Linked DNA regions of Homo sapiens: region 2 is linked to region 1. Evidence: fine-mapped expression QTL. A gene starts in region 1. The other region holds a variant in brackets. All regions are shown on one strand. Distances are from middle to middle.

Evidence for each region.
Region 2: its variant is fine-mapped to the expression of CYTH3 in lung (GTEx, PIP above 0.99).

What each region holds. Positions count from the first base shown.
Region 1 is chr7:6,267,782-6,276,117 of GRCh38, reverse strand. It overlaps CYTH3 (cytohesin 3), which reads left to right and starts at 3,494. Exons shown (of 13, transcript NM_004227.4): 1 at 3,494-3,644. The coding sequence starts at 3,611. RefSeq lists silencers at 3,267-3,626, 3,947-4,116 and enhancers at 3,435-4,156, 4,157-4,879.
Region 2 is chr7:6,980,747-6,989,082 of GRCh38, reverse strand. LOC107986763 (a long non-coding RNA gene) reads left to right here and starts at 1,500. Exons shown (of 3, transcript XR_001745073.1): 1 at 1,500-1,858. The variant C/T (reference allele first, on the strand shown) is at 3,995.

The DNA.
Region 1 (8,336 bases):
GATGTCAAAATTACAATTTTTTTTTTTTTTTTTTGAGACGGAGTCTCGCTCCTGTCGCCCATGCTGGAGTGCAGTGGCGTGATCTCGGCTCACTGCAACCTCTGCCTCCTGGGTTCAAGTGATTTTCCTGCCTCAGCTTCCTGAATAGCTGGGGTTACAGGCGCCCGCCACCGTGCCTGGCTAATTTTTGTAGTTTAGTAGAGACAGGGTTTCACCATGTTGGCCAGGCTGATCTCGAACTCCTGACCTCAAGTGATCTGCCTGCCTCGGCCTCCCAAACTGCTAGGATTATAGGCATGAGCCATCGTGCCTGGCCATGCCCGGCTAATTTTTTATATTTTTGGTAGAGATGGGGTTTCATCATGTTGGCCAGGCTGGTCTTGAACTCTTGACCTCATGATCTGCCCGCCTCAGCCTCCCAAAGTGCTGGGATTACAGGTATGAGCCACTGCGCCCCGCCCCTAAAGCAGTTTTAAGGCTGCAAAGCCAATTCACACGAAACAGCAAATACTATGAGAAAGTCTACAGAGTCAGATATCAAAATTACAATTACATAATTATTTGCTTAATGGCTGTATTCCTTCTAGGCCATCCGTTCCATAAGCCTGGGGACTGGGCCGGGTGCGGTGGTTTACGCCTATAATCCCAGCACTTTGGGAGGCTGAGATGGGTGGATCACGAGGTCAGGAGATCGAGACCATCCTGGCTAATATGGTGAAACCCCGTCTCTACTAAAAATACAAAAAATTATCTGGGCATGGTGGCGGGCGCCTGTAGTCCTAGCTACTCGGGAGGCTGAGGCAGGAGAATGGCTAGAACCCGGGAGGCAGAGCTTGCAGTGAGCCAAGATAGCGCCACTACACTCCAGCCTGGGCGACAGAGTGAGACTCTGTGTCAAAAAACAAAAACAAAAACAAAAACAAAAACAAAAACAAAACCTGGGGACTGAATTTACCTTTTTCATCATTTTCCCAGCACCTAGAACAGTGTCTGGAATACAGGAGGTGCCTAAATATTTATCATCTGACCAAATGATTGCAATGATTTAATAATTGGGTTTAATACTTGTTATTCTGCAGCAATGCCTGCTGCATGAATTATTTTCCTCACAAATTCACTTATAAAACTTTCAACATCTGAGCAAACCACTCATAAACTATGCATAAAGTGAGTGCCTATCTTAGTGAGTAACTAAAATACTTAAAGTTCCTATATGTAGAGATAATACGTATGTAAGCAGATTAGATCATTGCTATCTTGGTGGGATTTGAGAGATGCTGGAAAGCACTTCTTTTTGAAAATATGTAATTTTTCCATTAGATATTAATTCCTTCGAGTTGTGAAGATTTTGAAGTCTTCCAATTTCCCCATTAAAGCACAGAAATGACACCCAAAGCCTTTATCCCCCCCAACATTTTTGCAGAATTTGTTGAAATGCAAGCCCAGGCTAAACCATGGGGATAATGTAATATCCTCCTTATATAACTGGGCTGTGCTTTAGTCTGATGAAAATTAGATTAGATGGAGATCAGAGAAGCCACTTTCAGATTAAAACTCTGAGAAAAGCACCTGTGGATCACATTCTAAGACACCTAAAGAATTAAGATTGACATGAAAAAGCATTTATAATTGATAGTATCTTTGAGTTCAAAGCTCTGCATATCTCATTATCAAGTTCAAAGTAATGCTGTCATTTTTTCTCAGTAACGATGCTCTTATCTCCAAGATGACAAAGCTGACGGGAACAAGATCAGGAAGCCGAGTCTGGGGGTTGGGAGTTGAACCCTACATCTCCTGACTCCCAGACCCCTTTTCTGGTGCCTCTTTGTCACTCAAGCTGTCAAACACCTTTGCACGCAGCAGTGTCCCTTGGCTGGGTGTGGTGGCTCATGCCTGTAATCCCAGCACTTCGGGAGGTCAAGGTGGGAGGATCGCTTGAGTCCAGAAGTTTGAGACAAGCATGGGCAAACATGGCAAGATCTCGTCTCTAAAAAAGAATACAAAAATTAACCGATGCATGGTGGCATGTACCTATGGTCCCAGCTATTTGGGAGGCTGAAGTGTGAGGATCACTCGAGACACTGCATGCCAGACTGGGCAATAGAGCGAGACCCTGTCTCAAAAAAAAAGTGTCCCTCGTGGGTTTGGTTGCATGAGAATGCTTGGTGTTCAATTCTTGAGGTTATTAGAAGATTGAACTTTGAAATCATCCCGCAACCTTGAACCAAAAGGTGAAATTGTCCACTTTGATAGATGACAACGGAAGGATCCTTTGGTTCAATGGACAGCTTGTAAATATAAAACAGTTGCTGGAAAATTATATTAGAGATGAGCTATCTCCTCCATTACAATGTTTGCTTTTCTTTAATGCGATTGAGTTCCAACAGAAAGGCTTGGGAGGGGCCACAAGCAATGCTTCAGGAGTTACTGGAAGAGAGATATGGGGAGTGAGAGAGGAGATCCATCGATGTGGAGCAGGGGCCAGGGGAGGCCTTCTGCCCAGGAGGCCTGTGCTGAGGACCCTGGCTGTGCCCAAGGGAAACTGAATTCAGAGCTCCTCCTGCATCATAAATCCAGGACAGCTGGCAGCTCTCCAAGGAAGACTGGCGCTAAACTCCAAGGGCATCAGCCGCCAGATTGGCCAACCCCTACAATGCCCTTTGAGAGCTGAGCCCCAGGTGTGTTGAATCGGGATTCCGTTCCAACCTCATGACCACATTCATTTACAAGCCCTGCATTTTGTTAATTTAAAAATGCACTCACCAGGAGGGAAGGAGGAGAGGCTCCATTAAATATAAGACAGCTGAAAGGCTGGAATTCTTCTGACATGCATGTCTTAGGAAGGAGAAGGCCTGACCTTGTTCTTTTTTTTTTTGAGACAGGGTCTCACTCTGTCACCCAGACTGGAGTGCAGTGGTGCAATAATAACTCACTGCAGCCTCTACCTACTGGGCTCAAGTGACGTGACCTCCCACCTCAGCCTCCCCAGTAGCTGGAACTACAGGCACATGCCACCATGCCTGGGTCGCTATGTTATCGGGGCTGGTCTCCAACTTTTGTTCTCCAGCGATCCTCCCACCTCAGCCTCTCAAAGTATTGGAATACAGGTGTGAGCCACCGAGCCTGGCCAGGCCTGACTTCTGAATGCATTCGTTTCTTGATCTTTTACCCCGAGTGCACGTGCAAGTTGCACCCCTGGCCACTGGGTTTTGCAGAGTGTGGCGTTCCAGTGTCCGGGGCCCCACGCCCGTCCGCAGGCTACTGGAATGCTGAGGGCGAGGAGGCTTCGCTCCACGCACACCGGATCGGCCTGCACTTCAGGGGCCAGGTCTACAGCCTTCCCCAGCGCAGACGCCGCCGGCCCGGCCGGTTCCCGAGGGCGGGGCTGCGCGGCCTCACGCCCCGCCCACCGCGGGCAGAGGCGGGGCATGGGTCACGTGACGGCACGCCGACCAGCGAGGCCCCGCCCGGCGGGAGGAGGCCCGGCCGCGACCCGGGCCGCGCGCTGAGGAGCCGCCCGGTCGCCTGCGCGCTCCCTCCGGCGGCGTCCCCAGCCCGCGGCCCCTCTGCTGCCGGCCCCCGGCTCGCCGGCTGCGGGAGTGGCCTCAAGATGGATGAAGACGGCGGCGGCGAGGGTGGTGGCGGTGAGTGTCGGAGGTGTGGTGGGCTCGCCGGCGGCCTGGGGTCGGGGGCCGGGGGCTGGGGGTCGAGGGCGCGGCGCTGGGCCGGGGTTCGCCGGAGGAGACGGGGTCGGGGGCAGCGGCAGCGGCGTCCGCTGGAGGCCTGAGGCACGCCGGGCCAGGGCCGAGGCTGGGTCTCCGGGGGCCGAGGGAGGGGGCGGGCCGGGGTCGCCGTTCGGCGCTGGCGAGGGTCTGGGTACCAGGCCGGGGCTGCCGCGGGCTGGGGTCGCCCCGGAGTCTCGGGCCGGGGTTTGGGTGTCGCTCCTCTGGGGCGGGGGACCTTGCGGGGCGACCTTCCCCGCATCTTGTCGCCAAGGGCGTTCATGCCCTCCGGAGCCCGGCGTTTCGGACGCCCCCTTTCAGCTCAGGTGGGCGGAAGCGGCTGAGCCGGTGGGAAACCGGGAGGGGAAAGTTTTGCACTGGAGGCTCCTCGAGTGTACAGGACGGGAGGGCAGGGGAAACGGTTGGAAAGCGTGACAGTCTGCTTGGCTTTGGGTCAGAAACGGTCGCTGGATTTGCTCGAACGGGGAGGGGGCCAGCTGGAGTTCAGTTCAGGGTAGACGTTTTAGGAAACGGCAGACGCGACAGATTGAGCAAAAAACTCCGTGGAGCCGAGGGTGGGAGACACGAGCTGCACCCAGCACAGAGGCAAGACCGGAGAGCCAGGTGTGCCCGGAGCCAGGTGTGCTCCCGAGTGGGTCGGGTCGATGCGCGTCGTGGCCCAGGTGGTCTGTGTCTGACGTTCGGTTTCCTCTTGCTGGAGGAATCGTGTTTGTTGGAAATTATTTAGTGGAATACAAATGACTGCTGGGTCATGCTGGGAATTAGATTTTAAAAACAGAGGAACGTGCCTCTGTATGGAGTGGGTGTTCGCTTTGGAAAGCAAAGGGTTAATGCCCGTGTTTTTACAGGAACAGCCGAAGTTGAGGTTCTCTAGACTTTTTTTTTTTTTCCTGAAGATCTCCTTTGAGCTGACAGAGAAATCATCAGAATCATCAGAACCCCATGTAATAAGGGAGCAGTTTAGAGAAATCTTAATTACAGGCTGCCGGTGCAGCTGCCTGTAAGAATCAGCAGTATTGAATGCTTCAGGATGAAGTGGTTCATCATCAAGGTGCCTTCCAGAATTCAAGTGCTGCTCAGAGGGAGATGTTTTTTTGCTGAAAGACGCGATGCAGCCAGGATGGTGGGAAGTTGGCACCCGTCATGGCATTTGGCGAGTTCAGTTCTTATAGTTGAAGCTAGGGGTAGCACTGTGGCACCGAGTGGGTGTGTTGATGGGAGCGCTGTGGAACGAAGGCGCCCAGTTGCGAACCCTCCTACAGTCAGGCTGTCTGGAGCCATGAGATCCTAAGGAATGGGTTCCCGGTGGATGTCGTGTTTCCTGCCTGTCACAATTTGGGCATAGCTGTTTTCCCTTGTTAGAAAAGAAAGACAACTGTAATATGCAGACGTTGGACATTAGCGTCAAGGCAGCTAGCTGGCTTGGCAGTTTTGTTTGTAAGGTGCTTTGGGCTCTGTGAGTAAAGAAATGTAGACTTGAAGATTAAAGCAGGAATAAAGAGGAAAAGAGGAGGCTTTAATGTGCTCCAGCAATTTGCAGGTCTTGAGTACTATAACAAAGGATGATATGAAGTATCAAAAGTCTTAAAATTGTCCTTGGGTTGTTAGTATCTCTTCTGGGAATATATCACAGGGAAGCAACCTTGAAATAAACCCCTCACGTATAAAGATGTGTATTATGCTGTTTAAAATAGCAAAAAATTGGAAACAGCAACGCCAACAGCAGGGGCATGGTGAGGTAAATTATGGGAAGTTTATTGAAGTATTTTACAACCATTAAAATAAGCAGTTTTATACATCATGGTTTAAACAACATAAACATTGGTGACATTATGGATTATTTTATTTTCTTTTTATATTTTCCAGGTTTCTGGAATAAGTGTGTATTTCAGATTGGAAAAAAACCATCAAAGACGTGAATGTTTTAAGTGTATCATTTAATTCATCTCACTGGAACATTCAACAATGAAGATTTATTTATTGATTGCCCATCAAAATGCTAGCCAGCATGTTAGGTGCTGGAAAATAACTTTTAACCTTTATTGATTTAGTTTATGACTAGCTTTCTCCCTTGCTTTGTGACAGACACTTAAAAATATTTTTGGCAATATTAGGATATTTATTTTTGAAACAGGTGAAAAGCAAAGTTTTGAAATATGAGTGATATTGTAATTATTGTATAAACTTTATGTGCTTACATTTAACTCTTGGCTGTTGTAAGTTTTGAAGTTAACATACCTCTTTACAGTTAATACCTTTTAGATTTTTAAATGCTTTAAAATTCATGTTTAAAAAAATAAAGTTGAGCTCTTTTAAAGAAAACCGTTTCAGCTGCCAGCAGATTATAAAGCATAACATTTTTTGGTATATTTTTAGAGTGTAGTACATAATGTTGAACTGTATCTGGGGGAGTCAGTTAAAGCTTGTTTAAAAGATAGGGTAAATAATCTATTCAAACAGTAGTTATGGTAGAAGCCAAAGATAATTGAAAAGGTCTTTTTTTTGTTAATGGTCAGGTTAAAAGACTTGAAAAATTGATTCCTACTTGCTATTTTTATAAGTTAATTTAGCTTTTTGTCCACTGTATTGTTCTTTCAATGCAAGATAAGGAGAGAGAGGATGGTGGCATGAATGGCTGGAAGGCAGTTACAAGAGGAGCGAGTGGGGGGCACAAGATTACAAGAACACATTGTTCCTTACAGTGTGTGCAGAGTGTAGTTAAGTCGTTTTTAATTCCTATGGGACTTTGTTGCCTTTCAGTTTTTCGAGAACAGTTCTTGAGCTAATTGGAGGGTAGCTGGCTAGTTTGGCTCATTGGGATTGTCTTCGTGTCCTGTTTGGGCATTTGTCTGATTGATGGTCCTGAATGGACCATCCCTGGCAGATGAGGTGAATTAACTATAATTGGCATTCTTCTCTCTGACCCCTTCACTCCCTGATCAATGTAGGTGTCTGTGCTTCAGGTGAAGAGATGCTGAGCCTTGTTCATAATAAAATACATGCAAATTAAGACTAGATTGAGCTCCCACCTTTCACCTTCAGACAGGTGATAACCCCCAAGTATACAAAGTCTGTTTCAAGTTTGAAATATTTGAACGGCAAGGTCGTTTCAAACATTTACGGGTAAGAGTGTAAAGTAGCCACAGGCAGGGTCAGCCCATGTCCTGTTGGCTCAGATCCGTTTCTTGCCCTTTCCCTGCAGGGACTCACCCCTGCAGGCAACATTTCCCAGGCCCTTGGTCAGCTGGCTTCCGGCTGGGATTGGCCACTGGGAGCCACTGGCAGGAGGAATGGCAGGAAGAAGGACAAAAACAGGTTATTTCCCTTAGGCCTGCCTCAGGGAGTGTCTCTGGCAGGTACCTTGTCTCCTTTTGGCTCCAGCTCCTGCCCCTTGGTCCTAGCCTTTGAGTCTTGGAAATACCTCCTCCCTTTTACCCTCTATTTGAGAAGTGGTAACAGCAGCTTGCTCTTGATAATCTTTGTATTATCATTTCCTGTTTGGCTTTTCAGTTTTTCCATCACCCCTGTCACTAATTCCTTATATTAAATTCCCTCTATATCAGATTCTTAAAGGGATGGTTTCTCTGGATGTCTCTGTTTCTCTGGGTGGACCCTGATAGATACAGGTGCTTTAGGCAGTAGCTTTAAAAATTACAGGCGTGTAAATCCTTTGACCCAGCAATCCAGTTCTAGGAATTTAACCTGCAGATATATTTGTACACGTGTGAGATAACATAGGTACAAGATTATTTATTGCCTTGAGTGTCCATCAGCAAGCAAGAGACTTATCAGATAAATCCATGCCCAGATGGTTAATGAGGTTGTAAAGTTGTAGAAAGGAACGAGGAAGCTCTTTTCTTAGTTGACATGGAGAGATCTCCAAAATATCTTAAGTTACAAGAGCAGGCCGGGCGCGGCGGCTCTCACCTATAATCCTAGCACTTTGGGAGGCCGAGGCGGGTGGATCATTTGAGGTCAGGAATTCAAGACCAGCCTGGGCAGCATGGTGAAACTCCGTTTCTACTAAAAAAATACAAAAATTAGCCGGGAGTGGTGGTGCGTGCCTGTAATCTCAGCTACGCGGGAGGCTGAGGCAGGAGAATCGCTTGAGCCTGGGAGGTGCAGGTTGCGGTGAGTGAGATTGCGCCACTGCATTCCAGTCTGGGCAACAGAGTGAGACCCTGTCTCAAAAAAACAAAACAAAATTACAAGAGCAAAGTGTAGGAAAGTGTGCATTGCGTGCTCCCATTCTTGTGTTTTGAAAGAGGAGGTAATGGCTGATGCATGCAGATTCCCTGGAAGGTGAAAGGAGGAACCAATAACAATGGTTACCTGATTGGGGAAGATGATGGGAACTGAGTGGATGGGGAATATAGGTGGGAAGGAAACTTTTCACTATGCGCCTTTTTATTTTTTGAAATTCAAAAAAGTTTGAATAATCTGTCTTCACTTTTTCTAAAATTGGAAAGCAGTTTCATAGAAAAATAGTATGATGGTAAGAAAATACCCATTTTACACCTTTTTTGAGGGAATTTTTATAGATTAAAAAATACAGCTGGGCGCAATGGCTCACGCCTGTAATCCCAGCACTTT
Region 2 (8,336 bases), 710 kb before region 1:
TCCTAGTATTAAGTCTAATTTTTGGACCTTGTATATTAAATTAGTTTCTTAATTTTGTAAAACAACGCATAGCTTCTGTCAAACTTATGTATCTTAAGACTCAATATAACCCCCTTGTTATAACTGAAGAATCAACGATTTGACTCCCCAAAAACACAAGTGAGGAATGTAATGCCCAACCTTGTTTTTACTAACCCTGTTCTTAGACTCTCCCTTTCTTTTAATCACCTAGCCTTGTTTCAACCTGAACTGACTCTCCCTTAGCTAAGAGAGCCAGACAGACTCCATCTTGGCTCTTTCACTGGCAGCCCCTTCCTCAAGGACTTAACTTGTGCAAGCTGACTCCCAGCACATCCAAGAATGCAATTAACTGATAAGATACTGTGGCGAGCAATATCCGCAGTTCCCAGGAATTCGTCCAATTGATAACGCCCAAAGCCCCGCATCTGTCACCTCATAATAGTCTAAAAGCCCCTAGACCTAGAACTGTTTACTTTCCTGTAACAATTTATCCTTTTAACTTTTTTGTCTACTTCTGTAAAATTCCTACTTTTGTAAAAAATCCCCCTCCCCTTTCTAAACCAAAGTATAAAAGAAAATCTAGCCCCTTCTTCGAGGCCGAGAGAACTTTAAATGTTAGCCATTTCTTAGCCACCGGCTAAATGAACAGACTCTTAATTCGTCTCAAAGTGTGGCATTTTCTCTAACTCGTTCAACTACAACACATCCGGCAGGCACGTAATCCACTCTAAAATGCCATCCTGGGGTAGTGAAGATGATGTTGCTGGAAATATCCTTAAATAGCATGTGGATGAGTTCCCCCAGACGCATACATGTTGAGCTAAGTACTTTGCTGATGAAGGGTACAAGTTGAAGGGGTTTTGAAAGGCAGAGTGAGGTTCCTCAGAAGGCTGTTGCTACAGAAAGCCAGGAGGAGAAATTACATGGCCAGATAGAGTGGCATGACCATTGGATAAGGGCTTTTTGTTTGTTTTTGAGATGGAGTTTTACTCTTGTTGCCCAGGCTGGAGTGCAATGGCACGATCTCAGCTCACTGCAACCTACGCCTCCCAGGTTCAAGCGATTCTCCTTCCTCAGCCTCCCTAGTAGCTGGGATTACAGGCATGTGCCACCACGCCCGGCTAATTGTGTATTTTTCATAGAGATGGGGTTTCTCCATGTTGGTCAGGCTGGTCTTGAACTCCCGACCTCAGGTGATCCGCCCGCCTTGGCCTCCCAAAGCGCTGGGATTACAGGCGTGAGTCACCGTGCCCAGCCTGGATGAGGGTCTTTAGCAAAGATGGAAGTTTTGGTACCTTGCAGTTTAATCTCTTCATTTATGTCCTCCTGAAATCTTCAGGAATAGCACTATTTTGTCAATACTTCTGGGGTCGTACTTAGGGAGACTTAAAGGAGATGTGATGTGGCAGCCTTTGACTCAAGGGAGTATCATACTAGCTCAAAGAGATCTGGGTACATGCCAGTTGAACCAACTCTTTTGAGGATGTGGTAGATCCTGGGAGGCCACTCTGATCCTGCCAACCTTGAGGCCAGATGAGTCTTTGAAAAACATGGTTTGGCTTAACACCAGCACTTAGTCTAACACCCACCATGAATCTTGCTGAAGTGAAGCTATACAAATACCTTTTCAAAAGATTTTTTTTCATTCCAGATCCTTCTTAGAAATTCCTAAGGCTCAATGTTGTGTGGAAGATTCTGAGAAAGAAAATAGTTTCCGATCTTTGGGATTCCCCTGAGATGGTCCAATCTGCAAAAAGTTCATTGCCATTTCCATCAAGGACACTGAGAACAAGAGTCTTATCCGCATTGAATCCTGGGAATTGAGAAGCTTCAGCAGGTGGGAAATGCACCCTCCACAGGCTCAAACCCTTGTGGGCTGTTTCAGTTACCTATTGCACCTAAAATTAGAAACTTTAAACCACCTCAAGTCATTATTGCTCATGACCCTGTGAGTTGCATGGGGACTTCCTGGCTGTTTTAACCGGGGCTCATTTGTGTGGCTACCTGCAGCTGGAGGGCCAGCTGGGTGGAACATCCAGGACGACCTCATGCATGTGCCTGGCAGTTGGTGCTGGCTGTCAGCTGGGGAAACTTGTTTTCCTCCATGTGGCCCCTCGCCCTGCAGAACCCCTCTCCAAATGGCCCTTTAAGCAGGATAGCCAAGGTTTGCTTGGTGCCAGCATCCAAGAGGGCAAAAATATAGAAACTAGGAGAGGGCTCTCAAGGCCTAAGACTATATGCACCCCAAAAATCTGAGGTCTCAGTTAATTGAGAAAGTTTATTTTGCCAAGGTTGAGGACGCACGCCTGACACAGCCTCAGGAGGTCCTGACAATATGTGCCTAAGGTGGTGGGGACACAGCTTGGTTTGATACATTTTAGAGAGACATGAGACATCAATCAATATGTGTAAGATGTACATTGGTTCAGTCTGGAAAGTCGGGACAAGTCCAGGTGAAGGTGATGGTGAGACAAGGGGTAGGGGCTTCCAGGTCATAGGTAGTTAAGAGACAAATGGTTGCATTCTTTTGAGTTCCTGATTAGCCTCTCCAAATGAGGCAATCAGATATACATTTATCTCAGTGAGCAAAGGGGTAACTGAATAGAATGGGAGGCAGGTTTCCCCTAAGCAGTTCCCAGCTTGACTTTTCTCTTTAGCTTAGTAACTTTTTTTTGTTGGGGGGGACAGAGTCTCGCTCTGTTGCGCAGGCTGGAGTGCAGTGGTACCATCTCGGCTTACTGCAACCTCCAACTCCAGTGTTCAAGCAATTTCCCTGCCTCAGCATCCCAAGTAGCTGGGATTACAGGCGCCTGCCACCACGCCTGGCTAATTTTCATATATTTTAGTAGAGACGGGGTTTTGTCATGTTGGCCAGGCTGGTCTTGAACTCCTGACCTCAGGTGATCTGCCCGCCTCAGCTTCCCAAAGTGCTGGGAACTCCTGACCTCAGGTGATCCGCCTGCCTCAGCTTCCCAAAAGTGCTGGGATTACAGGTGTGAGCCACCGAGCCCAGCCTAGCTTAGTGATCTTGGGGACCCAAGGTTTATTTTCCTTTCACGGCTAGAAGTTGGTCACCATCACTTTGGCAGCATTCCACTGGCCAAAGCAAGTCATAGGCAGCCCAGATTTATGTAGAGAAATATAAACTCTACCTCTTAAAGGAAAGATTGGTTCGATTACACTGCACGAGCATTTGCAGAAAGTTGTACCCATCTTTGGAAACTACCATACACACACACACACACACACACACACACACACACAACTTTACATGTAACCCTCCCTTGAGGTGCATCTACTTCCAGGCAGAACCAAAACTTGACAGTACTCGACAGAAGAAAAGTAGGGTCCCAAATGCCAGTTCTCTTCTTACTCAACTTCAGCCTCATTATAAGCAGATTCTAACAGTTTATGTGTCTTGAGAAACATTTTAGTTAATCTTTGGAATTTAAGAATTTGAATTCATAGCAGTAGCCTGTGCATAGAAAATACGCATATTTTAAGTTTTTCCTTTCTGATAAATCATGCTGTGGGAACCACAATGTAACTTTTTTTTTTTTTTTGAGACCGAGTCTCACTCTGTTGCCCAGGCTGGAGGGCAGTGGCATGATCTCAGCTCACTGCAACCTCCGCCTTCTGGGTTCAAGTGATTCTCCTGCCTCAGCTTCCTGAGTAGCTGGGATTACAGGCACACAAGACGGGGTTTCACCATGTTGGTCATGTTGGTCTCGAACTCCTGACCTCTGATCTGCCCACCTCAGCCTCCCAAAGTGCTGGGATTATAGGCGTGAGCCACCCGCTTACTTATACTATAACTGTATATTGAAAGTTTCTCTTTTTTCAAAAATAATTAACAGGTTTAACAGAATGTATCTCCTGATCTATTCCTTTCACTGCAGACATCTATTGCCTTTTCAGCCTAGCAGCCCTCCCCTCTATAGAGACTCACACTTCCTACTCCAGTCACGTGGCT[C/T]TCATAGGGGCTGCCATATTCTTACATGACTCCACCCCTCTGGCCTCAGTTGATTGGTCCAGGGATGAGAATCTGGCCTAAATTGGCCAATCAGAATTCTTCCCTTGAATATTTTTCCAAACTGTAACTAGACCAATTTAATCATTCTCCGTGATGACAGGAACTGTGTGTAGTGAGAAATATAGGAGCTTTTGTGGCCACGTTTCTCACCTTATGGAGAAAAAGCTTGAGTAAGAAGAAATTAAGCCAGTATGCAGACAAAGCTAGAGACAGAGATAGAGAGAGAGATCTTATGGTAAACCCCTTGGTTTTTATCATTCTAGTACATGCTTGCTACTACATACAACCAAGACTTTCACCTGAGGGCTTTCTCAAAGTCAGGCATGGATTATGTCAGAAAAGCCACAGAAGCCAGGTACAGTGGTTCACTCCTGTAATCCCAACACTGGGAGGCCGAAGCAGGTGGATCACGAGGTCAGGAGTTTGAGACCAGACTGATCAACATGGCAAATCTCCGTCTCTACAAAAAATAAAAAAAATAGCAGGGCATGGTGGCAGGCACCTGTAATCCCAACTACTCAGGAAGCTGAGGCAAGAGAATCGTTTGAACCTGGGAGGCAGATGTTGCAGTGAGCCGAGATCATGCCATTGCAGTCCAGCCTGGGTAACAGAGCAAGACTATGTCTCAAAAAAAAAAAGAAAAAAGAAAAGCCAGAGAGTTGATGCCCTGGGACCTGTCCTCAGCCAGTGACGGATGGGAGCTAGGCTATAAATGCTTCAATATCTTTGCCCCCTGGATGGAACAACTTTGAAATGCATTCCACATCACCTCCCAGAGGTCCCCAGTGGGGTCAAATCCTAGTTGCCTGGAGTGGTAAGCTGCTCATTGAAGGCCCCTGTGTGGCCTCCTGCCTTTCCATGAATCAGTTCCTCACTCCCCTATTGGTGTTCCCTGGAATCATCTCCTAAATAATCCACTTGCAATCCTGTCCCTCTTTCAGGATCTGCTTGGGGTTGGGGAGTGCAGACAAAAACATGACCCCTTTTGTACTCCACACTAGTAAGATGAGTTTCTGTCACTGGCAACCAAGAGTTCTGACTATTACCTCCTTCTGAGATAATTCCTAAAATGTATTTGGGAATTTTCCCACCTCCACCCCACTGCCTATGTCATCAATATGTAGATTTCTTAACAAAGTTTAATGGTATTCTTTGACCAACCTCAAGTTTCACAAAACACACTACACTTTCATAAGAGCTCCCCATGACTGACAGATCAGCCGTTCAAAAGAAGGGAAGTGTCAGAGATGGCTCTGCTAGACTCACGTATTTTTCAGTAGAATCTGGGTCAGGATGGTGCGGTCAGAAGATGCTTCTGGAGCTCTGGGACCCACAAGCCTGCGTGTCCCACAGTGGAGTATTAGGACAACTTGAAAACATAGTCAGCAGTTCATCCTCCACCACACCCAATGTGTTCAATAGATATTGGTTAAATGAATAATAGGGCCGGGCATGGTGGCTCACGCCTGTAATCCCAGCACTTTGGGAGGCTGAGGCAGGTGGATCACCTGAGGTCAGGAGTTCAAGACCAGCCTGGCCATAGAGGCAGGGGAAGCACTTGAACCTGGGAGGCAGAGTTTACAGCACGCTGAGATGGCATCACTGTACTCCAGCCTGGGCGACAGAGCGAGACTCAAACAAAAAAATAATGGATTTATTCCTTCCAAACTGCAACTCACCAAAAGAAGACCAACACGCATCACAATGTTGTGGCCATAATCACCACAGTGACAATAATAAATATAATCAACTCTCGAGCCAGCCATCCCCACTAAACCTAGTGGGTCACATCTGGTGTTTCACTTTGGGGATGTTTTAGTGGTCATGGTAGATTGTTGTCTGACTGCTGGCTGTTTCTACCATGTTTCAGGAATATAGAGATGTGTACAGATGACCCCTAAAATTAATTAGTATGCAATTCTCAAAGAGACAAACTGTATCCCAGAAGCTACTGGAATGAAAAAAAAATGTTTTAATTCTCAAAGAGACAAACTAGATAGTAAAAGCATTTATGTTCCCTTGGAGAATCTTCCCACCAAGGACTCAAAGTTGTCTCCAGACCAGGGAATGCCTGGGGCCTTGGACGTTCCCAATTCTGGTATCACCTCCCATTCTCATTTAAGTCCAGTTTTCTCAGAGGAGCATACATTGTTCATTGCCACCAAGGGTATCCAAGGACACAAACTGAAGATAATAGTGCTTTATTGTCTCTCAGTCATCTTTCTCTCCCACCTGCTGGAAGGAGAGACAAGTCCAATTTATCCAATTACAAAATAGCAACATTGGCATCATGAGATCAGCTAACAAAACTTTCAGAGGCAATCTATCTTCCTACCAAAAGTAACCAACATCTGTGGAGCACTTACCATGACTAAGGGTCAACATAAGTGGTTTGCATGCTGCATGCATCAGGATGGACTAGGTTATGCTGCAGTAACAAATTAACCACAGAGACTCAGCAGCTTAGCAACCAAGGTTGATTTCTTACATTCCATGTCCACAATGGGTTGGCTGGGTACGGTGTGCTCCATATGGCCACTCGAAGACCTAGAATGATGGAAATTCTACCATCTTAATGCAAGGATTCTCCCATAGTTACTGCACCATGAGATGAGAGAATGAGATAGTTATCCCCAAGCCCTCAAAAGCTGTAGACTAGAGGTGAAGTCAGTGACTTCCACTTATAGAGCACTGGACCCTGGCATGGATCCATCTAACTACTGGGGGTCTGGTGAATACGGGGAGCACATGGAAATCCCATGAGCAGTAACCATTCCCGCCAGCATGCATTATTTCATCTGAACCTCACAACCCCATGGAATATATAACAGAGGCTTGGGGAGTTATGGGACCTGCCCCAAGGCGTCATAGATAATGAGTTGCAGAGCTGAGATATGACCCTCGGCCTGGCAGGATTCAAACCACTATGCTGCATACTCATCACAAAATTCTATGAAATTCCTCAGACAGCAAAACCCCACACCAAGTGAAAAGAAAGCCAAGTTGTGCAAATACACAATAGAACTCCCCTGACACTTCACCTCCTCACCCACCCCACCCCCACCGAAAGAATCAACCTACGCAAATAACTGGAATGAAATTCTCAGGCAATTTCAGCAGGGGAAATGGGGTTATCTCATCTGGGTCTCACATCCGACCTCGTCAAGACAAGACCTTCCCTAAACTTCACCTGAACACCTGGACACACTGTCATGTCTTGCCGCTTCTTGTTACTGGAAATCCAATGATGATGTCTTTATACAATTTATAGGTCTTTCTATAAGTGCCAAGATAAATGTCATCTCTGTACCTGCATATCATTCAGAGGTAGGCAAGCTTCTATGTAAACTGCTAGATAGTAAATATTATAAACTTTGCAGGACTCATCTGATCTCCATCCTATATAATTTTTTATTTTTGTTTTTTATAATTTTTTTTTCTTTTTAGATAGCGTCTAAAAAGAAAATAAAACTTATCCATGCTGTGATATGGATGAACGTTAAAAACATGCTGAGTGAAAGAAGCAGACATGAAAGGTCATATATTGTACAATTCCATTTATATGCAATGTTCAGACTAAGCCAATCGACAGAGGTAGAAAGTAGATGAGAGGTTTCCGAGGGCTGCAGAGGAGAGGGCATGGAGAGTGACTGCTGAATGGATATGAGGCTTCCAATTGAGGTGTTGAAAAAGCCCTGAAACTAGGTAGTGGTGATAATTGCACAACATGATAAATGTACAAAATGTCACTGAATTGTACACTTTCAGATGCACAAAATGGTAAAAGTTGCATATGTTATACCACAATTTTATTCATTTATTTTAGAGATAGAGTCTCACTCCGTCACCTAGGCTGCAGTGCAATGGCACAATCATAGCTCACTGCTGTCTTTACCGCCTGGGCTCAAGCAATCCTCCCACCTAGTCTTCCAAGTTTCTGGGACTACAGGTGAATCCTACCACACCCAGCTTTTTAAATTTTTTTTATAGAGTTGCATTCTCACTATATTGCCCAGACTGGCCCAAACTCCTGGATTCAAGTGATTCTCTCATCTCAGCCTCCCAAAGTGCTGGGATAACAGGTGTAAGCCATCAGGCCAGGCAATTTTTAATTCTTATGTGAAATTTTCAACTAATATATTCCTAGGATTAAAAAAATGTCGATCAACATGGGGATTAGAGGAAAAAATAATTTTAAACAAGAGAAAAAATTAAATGAGATGACGTATATGTATACAGTGCCTGGCCTCATGGTCACTGAGTCCACTGCAGCTTTTTTTTT